Regions from separate parts of the Homo sapiens genome. Here regions 1, 2 and 4 are each reported to be linked to region 3. The links are microRNA targets in miRTarBase. Many come from high-throughput screens and were not tested one by one. Region 3 holds a microRNA gene; each other region holds the end of a gene's coding sequence.

The links. The annotated mature microRNA hsa-miR-28-5p reads AAGGAGCUCACAGUCUAUUGAG and lies in region 3 at 2,940-2,961, opposite strand. An mRNA with a match to its seed (bases 2 to 7 or 8) in the 3' UTR can be bound and repressed. Matches are read on the target gene's strand: a 7mer-m8 pairs with bases 2 to 8, a 7mer-A1 pairs with bases 2 to 7 and ends in A, and an 8mer does both.
Region 1: miRTarBase lists PIANP as a target of hsa-miR-28-5p. Seed matches in the 3' UTR shown: 7mer-m8 at 3,128-3,134 and 7mer-A1 at 1,750-1,756.
Region 2: the mRNA of ATG9A is a reported target of hsa-miR-28-5p. Seed matches in the 3' UTR shown: 7mer-A1 at 1,186-1,192.
Region 4: miRTarBase lists NUDCD3 as a target of hsa-miR-28-5p. Seed matches in the 3' UTR shown: 7mer-m8 at 2,701-2,707.

What each region holds. Positions count from the first base shown.
Region 1 is chr12:6,692,151-6,696,150 of GRCh38, forward strand. PIANP (PILR alpha associated neural protein) reads right to left here. Exons shown (of 5, transcript NM_001244014.2): 5 at 1,641-3,501. The coding sequence ends at 3,276. Among named protein-coding and RNA genes, the nearest start is that of ZNF384, 4.8 kb to the left of the region's middle.
Region 2 is chr2:219,216,708-219,220,707 of GRCh38, reverse strand. It overlaps ATG9A (autophagy related 9A), which reads left to right. Exons shown (of 16, transcript NM_001077198.3): 16 at 256-1,328. The coding sequence ends at 261. It overlaps ABCB6 (ATP binding cassette subfamily B member 6 (LAN blood group)), which reads left to right and starts at 1,750. Exons shown (of 19, transcript NM_005689.4): 1 at 1,750-2,583; 2 at 2,901-3,038; 3 at 3,876-4,000. The coding sequence starts at 2,035. RefSeq lists a silencer at 2,311-2,420 and an enhancer at 1,666-2,533.
Region 3 is chr3:188,687,607-188,691,754 of GRCh38, reverse strand. It overlaps MIR28 (microRNA 28), which reads right to left and starts at 2,974; the gene lies at 2,889-2,974. The region is part of intron 7 of LPP (LIM domain containing preferred translocation partner in lipoma); the gene reads right to left.
Region 4 is chr7:44,382,332-44,386,331 of GRCh38, reverse strand. NUDCD3 (NudC domain containing 3) reads left to right here. Exons shown (of 6, transcript NM_015332.4): 6 at 211-4,000. The coding sequence ends at 321. Among named protein-coding and RNA genes, the nearest start is that of CAMK2B, 59 kb to the right of the region's middle.

The DNA.
Region 1 (4,000 bases), not on the chromosome of region 3:
GGAGGACATTTAGGAAGAGGGAACAGGTGAGGATTTCCAGTACCTTGCTGGTGTATTTTAATTTATTTAAATTTAGAGAAACAGTGGTCTAATCAGGCAGTAATTAATTCCCTCTTCATTAGGGGCCTTCATGTTTGCCTTTTGCATATGGATGAGCCACGGGTCACACTGTCCCTTTGAAGAGAGATCCTTGCTGAAGGTGAGAGCCCAGTGTGCTCTCCGGCACTTGAGCTCCTTCCCCTTCTGTGCCAATGCTTCTCTTTTCTCCCCACCCTCACCTGACAAGGACTAGATTCCTGTGGGGAAAGAAGGAAAGGTTAATGAAGCTTCCTATCCCACCCTCCTTGGATCTGGATCCCTCCCTCACGGCCCACAGTGTATACCATCCATGCCTCATCCTGTACCCTCAGGTTTTATCCAGCCCGCTCTCCCATCAGCCACCTGCTGGGATATCTTCATGCCCCCAGTGAGTTGACTCCTCAGAAGCTTGTTTGCCGGGCACCTCTGCTTTGAGTTGGTTCATCAATCCTTGGCCCAGCTCTGCTTCTTTCCCTTGTAGCAGTCCTTTTCTTAGGGAGTGTGACGCCCTGAATGCACACACTGCTCTAATCCTGAGAAATACACTGCCTCTTCCTGGCACTCAGCATTATGTGCTGCACAGGCTCAGCCACACTTCCCTCAGCTCACAGTAAAGCTCCCAACACCTAAAGCACACACCTACCAACACACAGACATTCCTAACCTAGCTTGAAAGATAAATGCATGGGGGCATATCCAGTCCAGAGCAGCCCAGGCCACCCTTTTGTACACTACATCATCCCTATCCTCCCTGGGGCCACCGCATTTCCAGGGAGCAAGTGGGGCACAGATTGGGGGAGGGGGGATAGATGGGACCTGGGTGGTTACCATAGCAATAGAGCCTAGCAACAGCTGAGAGGCTGATGTGTGGGTTTTCACAGGGCTGTTACAAGAGCCAAACCTAGAAATTGGGGACTGAGAGGTGACTGATCCCAGCTGGGCAGCCTGCATTCCCTCCCCAAAAACACCCCTTGATCCCACCCCCACACCCCTGCAGTGCCTCTCTCTGAGAGGGCAGAGTAGGGAAAGCTAACGAGTTAACCACAGGGCTTCTGATTCTGCACAGCTTTTGGGGGGCAGCTGTGGGTGGGGGCAGGTTAGGGAGCAAAGCTGAAAATAAACCAAGCAGGGCAGCTTCTTTCGGATGGCTGGCTCCCTCTCATCTTTTCTCCATTGCTCCATTTTTCTCTTCTCCTTTCCCCCTTCTCCCTCCGTCTGTCTTATCAGGTCTCTCTTCCGCCTTGATCCACCTCCTATCCTTCCATGTAACTTTCCTTTTCTTCTGTCTCCCTTTTTTTGGTCTCTCTTGACCCTCCCTGGCAAGGAATAAGTGAGCCACGATTTCTATTCTAGTTTCTCTCTTGTACCACTGCTCCTCGTCAGGATGGCTCCCTTCCATTTTGTCCCAAGTTAAAGCCCCAGTTGGCCCCCAGCTCCAGGTCAGAGGAGGGCAGGTGACTTAGGTCTAGAGGGGGTCCCCACCTCATCCTGTGCCTCCTCCTAGCTGCCCACCCCTCTCCTCCTCTCTACGGGGGTCAGAAGGCAGAACCAGGGGACTCGAGTATCTTGCAAAGGCTTTATTTGAAAATTTTGAAACTTACATCCCACAGTAATTCAAGATGATCACCACAAGAAGAAGAAAGAGATAATACAAAAATATATATCACAGCCTAGGAGCCAGGGAAGAAGGGAAGGAGGAAGGTGGAAAAACCAGTGAGAAGGAGGGAAGAACCTGAGGAGGGGGAAAGGGCAGGGAAGCAAAAGGAAGGAGAGTGGAAGGAAGGAGGGAGGAAAGGAGGGGACAGGAGGGAGTCCGGGAAGGGAAGGGTAGACTTGGAGGCAGAGCTCCCGATGGCCTTGAACCAGCTGACTCCGGTCCCTGGCAGCCTAGGTGGAGTTAGGGAGGCCCAAAGGGAGGCTGGGAAGGGAGGACTGGCTCAGGGGGCTCTGAAGTCCAGAGAATGGCACACACACAGACAGCCAGGACAGACAAGACAAAAGGGACTGTAGGAGAAAGGGAAGGGCAAATGGGAGTCCCTTTCTCATGTAGTGCAGCAGGCGACTCCCCAAAACCCATCTGTCAGAAAACAGATTTTAGCAGTGGGCTGGGGGTGAAGTCTGGGGCCTCACTACCCCATTCCCAAGGGGGAGCCCTCAGGGTGATGCCGGCATCCTTGGAGTAGGATGGGGAGACAGAGAAACAAATGGTGTGGAATGGGACGAGACCATGACCGATGAGGGCCCAAGGAGCCCCCAGCTCACCTCCCACCCACCTCTGGAGCAGCACGCAGGGGCTGCGGAAACGAGGTGGGTGGGTGTTCATGAGGGAGAGAGTGAGCACGCCGCACACCACCACAACATCAGGCCGGGAAACGCACATGAGAGGTAAAGTGTGCAGGAAACGCTGACCACTGAGTGAGCTGAGCACAGAATGTGGGAAGGAGAGAGTGCAAATGTGAGACGAGAGAACATGAGAGTCAGCTGAGCGGAGCGGTATGGACGGGGAGAGGGTGCAGGAGCGTGTGCAAATGGCCTGTGAAGGTGGAGGTGAGTGTGCAAGGCTTTCATGTGAGTGCACAAGGGTGGGGACAGGGACCCGAAGTCACAGATATGTGAGGCCCCCACCTGCAGGAGGGCGAGCAGATAGGATTGCCCGTGGGGCTGGGGAGTGTTCCGGGTGGTGTGCAAGGGGCAGGAGCCAGGAGCCCCTGTGGCCCCAGCTCCCCACAGCTGCCCCACCCTCAGTGGGATGGGGGCTGTGCCGGCCCCTTGGCCTCCTGCTTGGCTGCACCCCAACATTGGGGGCATCACAGATTCACCAGGGGAATCCTGAGAGGAAGAGGGAAAGGGCACAGTCAGGAACCAAGGGGTAGGCCAGAATAGAAGGGGAAGTTCAAGACAAAGAGGGGGAATCAAGGTTAAGAGGGCAGAGTTGTCTTAGACAAGGTGGCATGAGAAAAAACCAAAGAGGGCAGAGTTGGAGTTATGGGCAGCAGAGAATAGGACACAGATCCTGAGAGACTGGGAGAAGGAAGGGTGCCTCCCAGAGAGGAGCTGGTCCAGCCCCCTTGGGAGGGCCAGGGGCTGTGGGAGGCCACGCCTGCCTCCTCACTACCCATCCAGAGGGCACCCCCACCCCAGCTCTGAAGACCTAAGTTGCCTTCCCTCTTTGCCCTCCCATCCCATTGCCCCTGCCCTCACCGGTTCAACTGGAAGGCTGGAGCCCCCTTGGGGTGGGGCATCCCAGGCCGGGGTCCCCCTCGGGGCTCCTCATGGTCAGGGGTGGGGGTAGGTGAGTCCCCGAAGGCCCCCAGCACAGTGACTCCAGCCGGGGACAGGTCTGTCAGTGGCTGCTGGCTCTCCTCCTGCCTCAGGGCACCTTGCTGCCCTGAGGGTCTGCGTCGCTTCTGGCTGCGGTCCCAGCTGGGGTACCAGAGGAAAAGAGGTTCTCTTGCACACTCAAGTAGCCCCCATCCTGGGCCTGCACCAGTGGTCACCCCCAGCCTCGCCCAGTCACTCCCAACATCTTATAGCAGAGAAACTGGCCTTTAACAGTTCTCTCTACTAAATCCCCTGGGACTCTGTGCCCATAAAGCCACTTCCCCTGCCCTCTAGGGGAGCTTGGTAATCTAAACCTCCTTACCCTCCAAACCTGATCCAGATCGACAAAATTAATATCCCCTCCCCACCACCACAATGTCCTCTCCCCTACATGCCCAGAAGAGTCATTTCTGTCTTCAGCAGACAACTGGCAGGTTTAGTTCTAGTTCAAAGCAAGCTGATGACTTGGACACCTGAGTCTAATGATTCTCTCAGTAAAGTGTGAAGGACTGAGTGATCCATTATTAAATGTGTGCAAAGAAAGCTCCAGGTTTTCTTGCTCCCCCCAGGCAACCCTAAGAAGGGCTCTGCAGACTGGGTC
Region 2 (4,000 bases), not on the chromosome of region 3:
TAACTTCCAGGGTGAGGTAACAGCTTTTCAGGGGAAGGAAGATATGCCCCACCCCCACACAGAGATACTGTACCCTCCCTTCCAAAACACACTACCCCTTCTTTTCTCAACTGCTCTGCAGGGCTTGGTTTTTCCTTACCTTACCTCCCCAGGAATCAACCTTTCCTGTCCCTTTACCTCTAGGTTTCTATGGGGCTAGCAGGTATCAACCAGAAGCTGAAGACTATCTCCATTACCAACCCTTTCTCCCCACAGGTATAGACAAGGCTGAGCAGGGTTCCTGTGGCCCAGGATGGAGGCCACCGCTGCCCTGCCATCCCGTCTGCCTGCCATGGGACGGCTCCTCTGAGTGTTCCCTGGCCCCACGTGTGTGGTGTTTGTGTGTCTGTGCCTGGCCAAGGGAGGTGCCAACACTGGGCTTGCCACAGCCCCAGGAGAGGAATTTGGGGCCTAGGAACCGAGGGCACACGGGACTCTAGCCTCATCCCCAGGACCCCCTTGGCTCAGAGTGTGGTGCTAGAAACTGGCCCCCAGCCCAGCCCCAGTACTGCCACCTTTACACCTACCCCTGCAAGTCCCCAGAGGGCTGCCCACGATAGAAGCTGCCAAGCAGGGAGAACCTGTGCCAACTGTGGAGTGGGGAGGTTGGGCCTGGACCCTCAACCCCTGCAACCTTCCCTAGCCCCCTCAATAGATGAGCAGGTCAGGCTGTGGCCCTTACCTCACCCGCAGTTCTCGCCCAGTGCTGCAGCCGGCTCACCTCTCTCCGCTTCTTGCACATCACTGGCCTGTGTGTGCTGCTTGCTCCTGTTCTGTTCGCTTGCTCCCGTTCCGTTCGGCTTTTGCTTTGCGTTAGGGTGAAGACCCTAGCGTCCAGCTCCCCTCAACGCTATATTTTGACACTAAAAAAGAAGGTTTCTAAATTGTAGGAGCAGGATGGAAATACTTTGCTGCCCTTGCCATCTTTTAGGATGGGCCCCCAGGAGACTGAGGTCTTCCTGGGCCCTCATTGCTGCTTATCGTACCCCCCATCACCTGCACATGGGACAGACCGGGCTGGAGGGTGACCTTGGCTGTGTGCGTCCCAGCAAAAGAGCTCTGGCCCGCATCTCGCTGTGCCCTGAAGGGGGATGAAGGGCGATGCCTCGCCCGAGGCTTTGGGCTGCTGCACTGCATGCTGGGACTGCTCCTACTCTCTGTCCCACCCCTCACCCAGCTGTGGTCCGGCTTTGGGAGAGTGGTGAATTGCGCTGCCCGAACTCGGAGCGGAGCAGGGTAGGGACCGTGTACAGCTTGATAACCCTTAATAAAAAGGGAGTTTGACCAGACTTCTTGTTGTCTCGCGCGGCTAGAATCCTGGGAACAAGAGAAATGGGATGGGGACTCTGCCGGGGTCTAGAAGAAAGTATGTTTAGGCCGTCGCTCAGATACGCTGAGCAAGGCGGCTGGCGGAAGGGCAGCTTCCGACCCACAGTTCCGTGGAGGTCTGTGTCCTGCCCCGAGCCAGGATTCCGTGAGGTCTGTTTCCAGCCCCGAGCCACGATTCCGTGGAGGTTTCCAGCTCGGCCTGGTCGTCAGATTTCCCGCCCTGGGCACGTGACCAAGCCGGCTCTGCTTCTCTAATTTGCATTCGTTGCCTGCACCATTCCCCCCGCTCCCCCCTCGGAGACATTTGGCCAATGGGAGCCGTGGGTAGGGGCTGTGGGCGGGGCTACAGCCGTGGAGCGCGGTGCGAGTCCAACACCGAGCATTCCCGTGGGCCTGCAGTTGGCAGGAGGGTCCCGGGCCCAGAGCCAGCGGGGCCGTGCTGAGACGGCGTACGTGCCCTGCGTGAGTGCGTGGCGGCGGCGCGTGCGCTAGGGGAGTGGGCGGTGAGGCCTGGTCCACGTGCGTCCCTTCCCGGGACCCCCGCAGCTTGGCGCCCAGCGGCTACGTGAGCCAAGGCACCCGGATGTCCGCGCCCCTCTCCGAGTGACCAGTCCCGGCCTCCGGTCCCGCAGTGCCCGCAGCCTCGGCCGGCGTCCACGCATTGCCATGGTGACTGTGGGCAACTACTGCGAGGCCGAAGGGCCCGTGGGTCCGGCCTGGATGCAGGATGGCCTGAGTCCCTGCTTCTTCTTCACGCTCGTGCCCTCGACGCGGATGGCTCTGGGGACTCTGGCCTTGGTGCTGGCTCTTCCCTGCAGACGCCGGGAGCGGCCCGCTGGTGCTGATTCGCTGTCTTGGGGGGCCGGCCCTCGCATCTCTCCCTACGTGCTGCAGCTGCTTCTGGCCACACTTCAGGCGGCGCTGCCCCTGGCCGGCCTGGCTGGCCGGGTGGGCACTGCCCGGGGGGCCCCACTGCCAAGCTATCTACTTCTGGCCTCCGTGCTGGAGAGTCTGGCCGGCGCCTGTGGCCTGTGGCTGCTTGTCGTGGAGCGGAGCCAGGCACGGCAGCGTCTGGCAATGGGCATCTGGATCAAGTTCAGGCACAGCCCTGGTCTCCTGCTCCTCTGGACTGTGGCGTTTGCAGCTGAGAACTTGGCCCTGGTGTCTTGGAACAGCCCACAGTGGTGGTGGGCAAGGGCAGACTTGGGCCAGCAGGTGAGGGACTCTGTGGGAAGGGGGAAGCCTCTGCTGGCCGGGCTTGGGAGAAAGCACTGCATGTCCAGTCACACTGCTTCCAGGCTTTAGGATGCCTCTAAGCAAAGGGAGAAGGGAGGGGCTGAGTCCTGCCGGGAGCTGATAGCCAGCTGGTGGGGTGTGTCTTTGCTGAGTCACTGTGGTTTTGCTTTTTTTTTTTTTTTTAAGCCTGTAAGTGCTGAATGTGTTCATGACACCAGTCCCCGGCCCTATTATAAGTAGTAATACAATGAAATTTTATCCTCAATGATACTCTCTCCACTTATATTTCATTCTAGGTTCAGTTTAGCCTGTGGGTGCTGCGGTATGTGGTCTCTGGAGGGCTGTTTGTCCTGGGTCTCTGGGCCCCTGGACTTCGTCCCCAGTCCTATACATTGCAGGTTCATGAAGAGGACCAAGATGTGGAAAGGAGCCAGGTACACCTCAGTTTCTTTTTTTTTTTGGAGACGGAGTCTTGCTCTGTCACCAGGCTGGAGTGCAGTGGCGTGATCTCAGCTCACTGCAACCTCCACCTCCCGGGTTCAAGCGATTCTCCTGCCTCAGCCTCCTGAGTAGCTGGGACTACAGGTGCATGACACCACACCCAGCTAAGTTTTGTATTTTTAGTAGAGACAGGGTTTCACAGCATTGGCCAGGATGGTCTCGATCTCTTGACCTCGTGATCCGCCTGCCTCAGCCTCCCAAAGTGCTAGGATTACAGGCGTGAGCCACTGCGCCTGGCCTCTTTTTGTTTTTAAGACGGAATCTTGCTCCGTCACCCAGGCTGGAGTGTAGTGGCGCGATCTCAGCTCACTGCACCCTCTGCCTCCTGGGTTCAAACAATTCTCGTGCCTCAGCCTCCCAAGTAGCTGGGATTACAGGTGTGTACCCGGCTAATTTTTGTATTTTTAGTGGAGATGGGGTTTCACCATGTTGGCCAGGCTAGTCTTGAACTCCTGACCTCAGGTGACCCACCTGCCTCGGACTCCCAAAGTGCTGGGATTACAGGCATGAGCCACTGCACCAGACCCCACCTCAGTTTCTGAATCCTGGAGTCTCTTCATTTCATTCCCTGTCATCATTCCTTCCCCCAAAATGAAATGCTTCTTTTCCAAATCTCAGTTTGCAACTTAGTTTTTCTGACCCCATCAAGGATCACTTGTGGGTCTGAGATACCTGGGAGCTGTAACCCCATAGGTTTTTCCCTGAAGGGTTTCTGGCTAGTGCACTTACTTGATTTCTGAGCTCCCTTCCTACGTGTTTCACCATCCTAGGTTCGGTCAGCAGCCCAACAGTCTACCTGGCGAGATTTTGGCAGGAAGCTCCGCCTCCTGAGTGGCTACCTGTGGCCTCGAGGGAGTCCAGCTCTGCAGCTGGTGGTGCTCATCTGCCTGGGGCT
Region 3 (4,148 bases):
ATAGAGAAAATAAGAATAGAGCAGCCTGGCTGCTAGAGTTCTATGTTCCTCTCTATCATAAACTTTCTGGGTGCTATTTAGGAAATCATTTCACCTCTCTGGGTCCGGTTTCCTCAAGTGGGCGCAATCATCTTCAATCTTCTAATGCACATGTTTCTTGCAACAAATAAACCAAACAGGAGAAGTAGGACTACTCAAGTAATTTGTGAATGGCAATATGAATAAAGGGACACACAAACCATCATCATGTACATCGTCACCATCCACCTTTTTATTATTACAGCTAACCTTTGGGCCAGGCCTTACTCCAAATGCTTCAGATGTATTTCATCCACCCTGCATCTTGATTAGGTGGTTACTTTTATTGCCCTCATTCAGTGCTAAGGAAATTAAAGCACAGATTTCTAAGTAGAGCACTCAAGGCACTGAAGCCTGGATTCCAGTATGACTCTATAGTCCATGGCCTTCACCAGTCAGCTACATGTAGTATTACAAGAGTGGCATTATCAGTACCTATTTGTTATCCCTTCTCTACTTTCGAACTTTTAGCTATGTCATTATATTGCACTCATAACTAAAAATGAATAAAGTTTAACCCAAATTGTATTTACTGAGCAGGCACAAGGTGGCAGATACTGCATTAGTCAGCACTTTGATGATAAAGGTAAGGATAAACTTAGAAATGCAAAATAGTCATGACACAGTAGCTTAAACTGACAGGCAGGAGTAGCTAATACTGTTTCTCTCTAGGGAAAAATATGGATAGAAGTATCTTAAAGGAAGAAAGAAAGGGTCTCAGATGAAGATAAAAACAGTCATGAGAGATAACCCATAATTACCTACTTAAAATGTATAGGGATTATACTAGATGAATGTTCTAAAAACTACACATAATATTGTTAGCATCCTTCTACAAATAGAGGCCCATGAAAATTAAGGAGTTCCCTAAAATCTAACAGGTAGTACAGGTAGGGCAAGACTCAAGTCTGAGTCTGTCTGGGTCTAGCAACTGTGTTCTTAACTACCAAACTACCCCTAAAAGAAGAAGAAGAATGTGGAAAGAGAGAACACTTTGACTATTCTCTCCTTCTACCAGGGTCTGACTACAGGGATTTTGGTAAGTATTTATAGAACCCATCTACATTTTACACAGCTATTTATCATCCTTTAAAATGTGTTATTGCTTGTGCTCAAAGGGAACACGAAAATTAGGGCACCGTATCCATTCCAACTTGTAGATTAAAGGAACACAGAATGTTTTTTGAAACATTAGAAAAATTAGATGTAAAACCACAAATAAAGAAAAAAACTTATCTTTCAGGGAGCAGACCCCTTGAAACAACATATTTTTTGCTTCAACAAATACTTTCTGCTAGCATTACTGTGGCATACTAAGAAGTTTATCGATTTAGAGTTATCAAGCTCTAACCTCCAAAGGAAAAGCCTAACCCCGAGCAAACAGCAATACTGACATGTCACATAGCGTAATGAACACTGGACTCGGGAGCCAGAGGACTAGGATTTATGCCCCAAGCCTGCTGCATACTAGTCACATGACCTAGCTATGTCACATAATCTCTCTGCATCTCGCCTGCTTATTCTAGACTAGGTCAATTCCATTTGCACTTTATAAGGTAGGTATGAAGATGATGACCTTTGGGAGCATTATGCACATCTTTCAGAGTTTGTCACATGTAAATATTGGCAATATCTTGGGTTACCTTGTGATAAAGTCAGGGAAACAGATGCAGTGATTTCACAGGTCAGAGAAGGATATTCAACTTAAAAATCCCATTCTGGATTTTCTAAGGTCACTTATTGAGCCAAAAAAAAAAAATGAGCTCAGAATTCCTGATATACCATCATGTGTCAATGGGACAAAAATTACTAATATTTATCTCACTAGTTTCTGATACAACAGGAAACCTCTAACAAACAGGTAGCATAATAAGCTATATGGATTTGGGCAAGTCACTTCACTTCTGTGGGTCTCAACTATACCCATTCCTCCGCTCACTTGTGATTCAACAAATATAGTAAAGGGTACTAATTCTTACCATATGGACCTCAGAGAGACTATTAGGAACTGTGAAGTGAGATAATGAACTGTGAAAATTCTCCGAAAACAATGAAATGTCAAACAAACCTGGAGGACATTATGTTGAGTGAAATAAGCCAGGCACAGAAAGATAAATATTGCATGATCTCACTCAAGTGTGGAATCTAAAAAAGTTGATCTCATGGAAGTAGAGAGTAGAATAGTGGTTAACACCTCCTCTAAGCCACTGTGAGAAGGACTCCATCACTTGCAAATACAATTGATTACACAAAGCACAAGCAAGTCAACTTTTCCTGCCAAGAAGATTTGTTGCCCTTGGTGAAATAATAGCATTCTGGCCAGAAAGGAAATTTCATCATTTTCCTATGACTTCGATTCTGACTTTTGCAATATGCATGCCTGGGCTTCAGAGTCCAGAACCCAATTCTGGCCCTGTTAGTTTACAGCCTAGAGCCAGTGATTTGATCACTGACTGAGCTGAGGATAGATTTGCTAACTACCATAGCTGGGTGCCAGGCCGACCCCAGGCTCAAATCCTCCCAACACTGAGGCTGCATAGACAGGCTCTCCAGCCAAGCAGGCAGCAGAAGTGTCCTGAATGTTTACCATGTACCAGGCACAGAGATAGAGGAGGAAATAGCATACACAGAGCTCCTGCTGTGTCAATCACATCTCATTCTTTTCTCGTTTAATCTTTCCCTGATGAGGTAGGCAGTATTAGCTCTGATTTTCAGAGCAGTTAACAGATGTGAACAAAGTTAAAATAATAGAGGCGGGATTGTAATCTAGGATTAACACTGAAATTTAAGCTCTTTTTCAGATGAACGAAAGTGCCTGCCCTCCAGGAGCTCACAATCTAGTGGGAAAGTCAGAAAGGTAACTCAATAGACTGTGAGCTCCTTGAGGGCAAGGACCATTTTAAATTTTTTCTTGTATCTTCAGCATCAAGCATGTTGTCTACCATGCAAAAGGCACTTAATAAGTGCTTGCTGAATAGACAAGCCATATTTAGATGTTGCCCTTCATAAAATACAAACCTAATTATATTACTCATCTGACTTCACAAACCTCTTCTAGCTCCTCTTTGTCAAACTCCTGAGTACTACTTAGAAAGTCCTTGAAGGGCCTGCCTTCATAGTCTCATCTTCTGTGATTCCCTTCCACATCCTCTGTGTACCACACTTCCATCTTCCAACTATCTTGGCATATAGGTGGTGTTCAACAAATGTTCATTGAATGGGCAAACAAAGCCAAGAAGGGATATATCTGCATAACATCAGAGGCATCAATATAATGCCTTATGAACACCAAGGGTAGATTTATCCAACTGAAGGCATCAGGAAGGTTTCACAGAAGACAGGACAATTGATTTGAGTCATTAACTCTAAAATCTCAAAGGCTAGATGACATTGCATAGGGAAAATTCAATCCTCTTTTGCTATTAATTAGGCAAATGACATCATAACAAAACATTTTTCTTTAAACCAGAATATGAGCTGTGCCAAATTCCGTCATCTAAAGGATATGGGTTTAGGCCAAAAGCCCATCATATAGATTATTGTTTTTCTTCTCCCAAGTACTTTGGAAAAACTAAGTCTCATTTGGCATGCAGTGCCTCTCAGCAAGGTCATGGTTCTTCTGCCGTGGTGCCTGGGGCAGTTAAGGTAAGAATTGTGTTTCAAAAAAATACCTCAGACACTGTTAAGAATAAGATAACGTGGTGAAACCCCGTCTCTACTAAAAATACAAAAAAATTAGCCAGGCATGGTGATGGGCGCCTGTAGTCCCAGCTACTCGGGAGGCTGAGGCAGGAGAATGGCATGAACCCGGGAGGTGGAGGTTGCAGTGAGCCGAGATCGTGCCACTGCACCCCAGCCTGGGCGACAGAGCGAGACTTCATCTCAAAAAAAAAAAAAAAAAGAGTATAAGACAGCTGGTTAGACAGGATGACATGGGAATATTCAGAGCTTTGGTCAAGAAATCAGACCAATGAGTCAGTAAGAAAGGGTCATTGAATTACTCCATTTTCACACTGCTATAAAAAACTTCCCTGAGAATGGGTAATTTCTAAAGAGGTTTAACTGACTCA
Region 4 (4,000 bases), not on the chromosome of region 3:
GTCTTGGAGAGAAATTGGCAGGCACCCAGTACCTCCCTTGGTCGAAGGCTGCTCCAGGGTAGTACAGTTCTCTGGCCAGCCGGTCTTGCCAGGCAAGTGCCTGAGCCCTGAGGAAGCAAGAAGGCTCTCTACCTGCAGTCAGAGTCTGCTCTGGGAGAAAGTACACAGTGCGTTGTGATCCCCTTTAATCTCTCTATTTTCTGTTTGTAGAAAGTCCATGAGATGCTGAAGAAGGGGTGGGATGCTGAAGGTTCTCCCTTCCGAGGCCAGCGATTCGACCCTGCCATGTTCAACATCTCCCCGGGGGCTGTGCAGTTTTAATGACCAGAAGGAAAGGAAACCCTCGCCGGTGGGGAGGCAGAGCCTTATCCTCGGCTGCCCTTCTTGGCTCCCTGCATTCCAGGGACTTGCTCGTCTTGTTTACCCCTAGCCATCCTTTCTTTCAAGGGTGAACCAGGCCTTCCACCCTGACCTTGCATCTCCAGACTGTTCCAGAGAAGGTGCGGGGCCAGCTGCTATGTGGTGGCCGCTGTGGCTGACACTGAGTGAAGGTGTTTGAAATGCAGGAGAGGATATCCCAGCAAATTGGGATCACATGCTTTTGTCTCCACAGCAACCAGCCACTGCAGGCAGCATGTCTTTCCTCCCCTGCTCTCTGCTTGCTGTTGTTTTGACGCTATTCTGCTTGCATGTCTTCTGGTTGGGATGTGGAGTTGTTGCTGGACTCTCAGGCGAAGCTGAAGTCATTGAAGTGTGTGAAGCTCTGTGCTTGCATGAGGGCAAGCAAGGAATGGCTGTGCCTGAGGCTGCTCTGGGAAACTCCTTGCCCCTTGACCTCTTTTGAGAGCATTCACGTGGTCTTCTTGCTCATCCCCTTATAAATGTGCTTTGCCTGCCTCAGCCTCATGGTCAGAGCAGTGGAGACTGGAGCCCTGTTTGCACGTTCTAGTTGTTCGGAGAAAGCCTAGGTTCTGGGCTCAGGTCCAGATGCAGCGGGGATTCTGTTCTCTGACTGTGGCGACCTTGCTTTGGTTCTTGTTGAAGTGAACCAAGCCCGGCCACCACGCATGGCATGCTGTGCTTGGCTCCCCATAAGACGTCCTCTTTGGGTGCACGGTGTCAAAGTGTGGGCAGGAGTGGAGAGCTGGTGCCCTCAGGAGGAGACCACAGCATGTCCATCAGCTCAGCAGAGCTCGACAGCCACAAGTCCTGAGAAGCTTTGACCTTGAAGGGCTTCTGGGAGAGGAGGAATTTCTGCATGGGGCGTGAAGGCACACTGTCCCACCACAACTGAACCAGAAGAGAGTGAAGACTCCCCTCTTCCCATCCTCTGTGCCAGGTGCCAGACTGTGCTCCTTGGAACTTATGGCCCAATCTTACCTGTTCTCCAGGGACTGGTCACTGCCTCAGGACCCCCAAGCCTATGCCCTGAGCCATGGCTGCTGACTGACTCCAGCCAAGGTGCAAAGACGAGATTATGAGACAGGTCCTCAGGCCTGTGTTCCAAGTACTCACAGGGGCTCTGGGTGCCCATCGCCGGGAGTATGGTTCAGCTGCCACCGGCACTGTCCATTTGCCTGTCTGTCAAGCTCAGAGCATGGATAAGCCACACAGCAGGGCAGTGCACCCTGGCACCATGCACGGCCAGCAAGAATCAAGGCCCGCAGATGCTAAGAGGGCCTATTGTCAGGGGAAGGTCCCCGCTCCTGCACACTCTCTATGGATACTTGGGTTGTGGGGGCTCTCTTGGAGAGTAAGTTTGTGGTTTGTTTCTGGTTTACAGTGGTGGCTGACACCCCTTGTAAGAAAGCATTCCTGGGAAGTCTTCTGTGGGTCCAAACATGTTGCTCCGATCATCACAGGAGAGCAAAAGGCCCTAGATACCCCCTTTGGAATGTGAGAGTCTTGTTGTCTGATATTTGCCACTGAGCTGGTGAAGCCCCTCTAAAGAGATCTCGACCCTGGGGAGCAGAATTCTTGTCATCTATGAGGGGTCCTGAGAAAGACTTGTCATTTTTTTTCCTGGAGTTCTTCCCATTGAGGTCCTAGGATTTGCACACCACTGTCCCACAAGAGCTTTCCTGCCTAATGAAAGGAGGTCTTGTGGTGTGTGTCTCCTCTCTTCTCTATAGTTCCCGAGTTGGCCCCCATTGCAGCCCCCACCCTGTGGGTAGTCTTCCAGAAGTGATGCAGTGGTGTGAGATGCCCTACACCTTGTTATTTGGGAGACTTTGAGAGTCATTCACTTCCATGGTGACTAGTGTTTGTTTTGCCTGATTTTATATTCTGTGTTGCATTTCTCCCCACTCCCTGCCCTGCTTTAATAAACAGCAAACCAATATCTAGGAAGAATGACTGAGGGATAGTATTGGGTATTGGCCCCATGGCAGGAACAGCCACTTGCATCTGGTCCCGGTGCCACACTGCGGTGCTTGGTGTGGTTGTGGAGCCTGTCCCTGCGCGCCTTGCTCCCGTTGAGCCACGCTGTCTGGTGGGTGATTCTCTGCCCTGAGCCACCACCCTGGACTGGCCCAGTCTCCAGAGCTGGCACACCCTGCCTGTTTTCTCTTTTTAGACACAACAGCCGCAGTTTGGCCAGCCACTAAGTCCCACCAGCTGAGGTCCGAGGAAAGCGGGGTGACTCATTTCCCTTGTCCAGGGCCCGAGGAGAGTGAGGTGTCCAGCCTGCAAAGCTATTCCAGCTCCTTGGTGTTGGTTTGCAATAAATTGGTATTTAAGCAGTTCTGGGTCTGCGTGTGACATTTGCTGCTGAGACAGTTCTGTCTGTGCATGGTCATTATTGTTGCATTCTAGCCTTGAGGTCCCAGGCCAACGTACACAGCAAACACCAGCATGGGGAATTCTTAGGGGTTGTTTCCCATCTGGTCTGAATGCACTGGGCAAGATCTCAATACAGCTTTAGAAATCCTGTAAGATTTTGACCAGTGGGGAGAAAAAGAATGTAGCTATAGATCTTACATCCTTTCAAACAGGTTCTGGAATTCTGTAGTTACTGGAAAGCTTAGGGTGAGTGCAGAGTTGGGAATGATTCCACTGAAGGGCCACCTTTGCCCACCAGGCTCCAAGGCCCTCCTTGGTCTCCAGGTGCATACCTGCTGTTAACTTTGCTGAGCCCTCGCAATGGGCTTCCTCCAGGACATAACGCCGTGTCTGACACAGAAGTCTCCCAGGTGGCTGGCCACCTGCTTCTTCCTCAGTCAGATCTTTGACTCTCCTTCTCTGTGCCCACCCCATCTCCAGCCTCCTCTGACCCTGCTCACCCCTGGGGACAGGACCTAGGGGTGTGAGAAGTACTTGGCTGAATAAAGACTGTTTCAAAGGCAATCCTTAGAATTGCCTAGCATACTCCCAGGGCCAGAAATAACCCGCCAGAAAGGAGAGGCGTATTTGCCCCTGAAGAGTGCAGGAGGGAGAACAGTTGAGAAGTGTTTTGTGTGGAAATGTGTCCAAGAGGCGTCAGCTGCTGCACAGAGAACTCACTGCCCAGAACACTGCGCTTGGGGAACAGACCTCACCCCCACCTCAAATCTGCTCTCCACTGGGCCTGTTGGCAGCCAGCTCAGCTGGGGAAGGGACAGCATGACTCGCTTTGTCGATGAAAAGCACGAAGTTGTCAGCACAGAACCTGGCCAGTCCTTGAGAAACTCCCTCCTTGGTGGTCAGAGGTCAAGCAGCCCATGTGGCCCACGGTCCTGAAGAACTGGGCTATGTCCCTGAGGCTCCTCTCTACCGTCTGACTGTGGGGTCTGGGGAACAGGCATTTAAACCAGGCTGCTGCCCTGGGGAGTGCCCACTGGACGCCAGGGTGCCCCATAGGGACAGGGTCACAAAGCCCTGGGGCTTCCCCTGCCAGTCCTGGTGAGGACAGTGTGGTCACTATCTCAGAGAGACGAAAAATGAATATTCTGTCATTTCAGACTAAACTACTCACCCAGCTCACACTAATATGGATTTGTTAATTTTACCTTTTTTTTTCTTT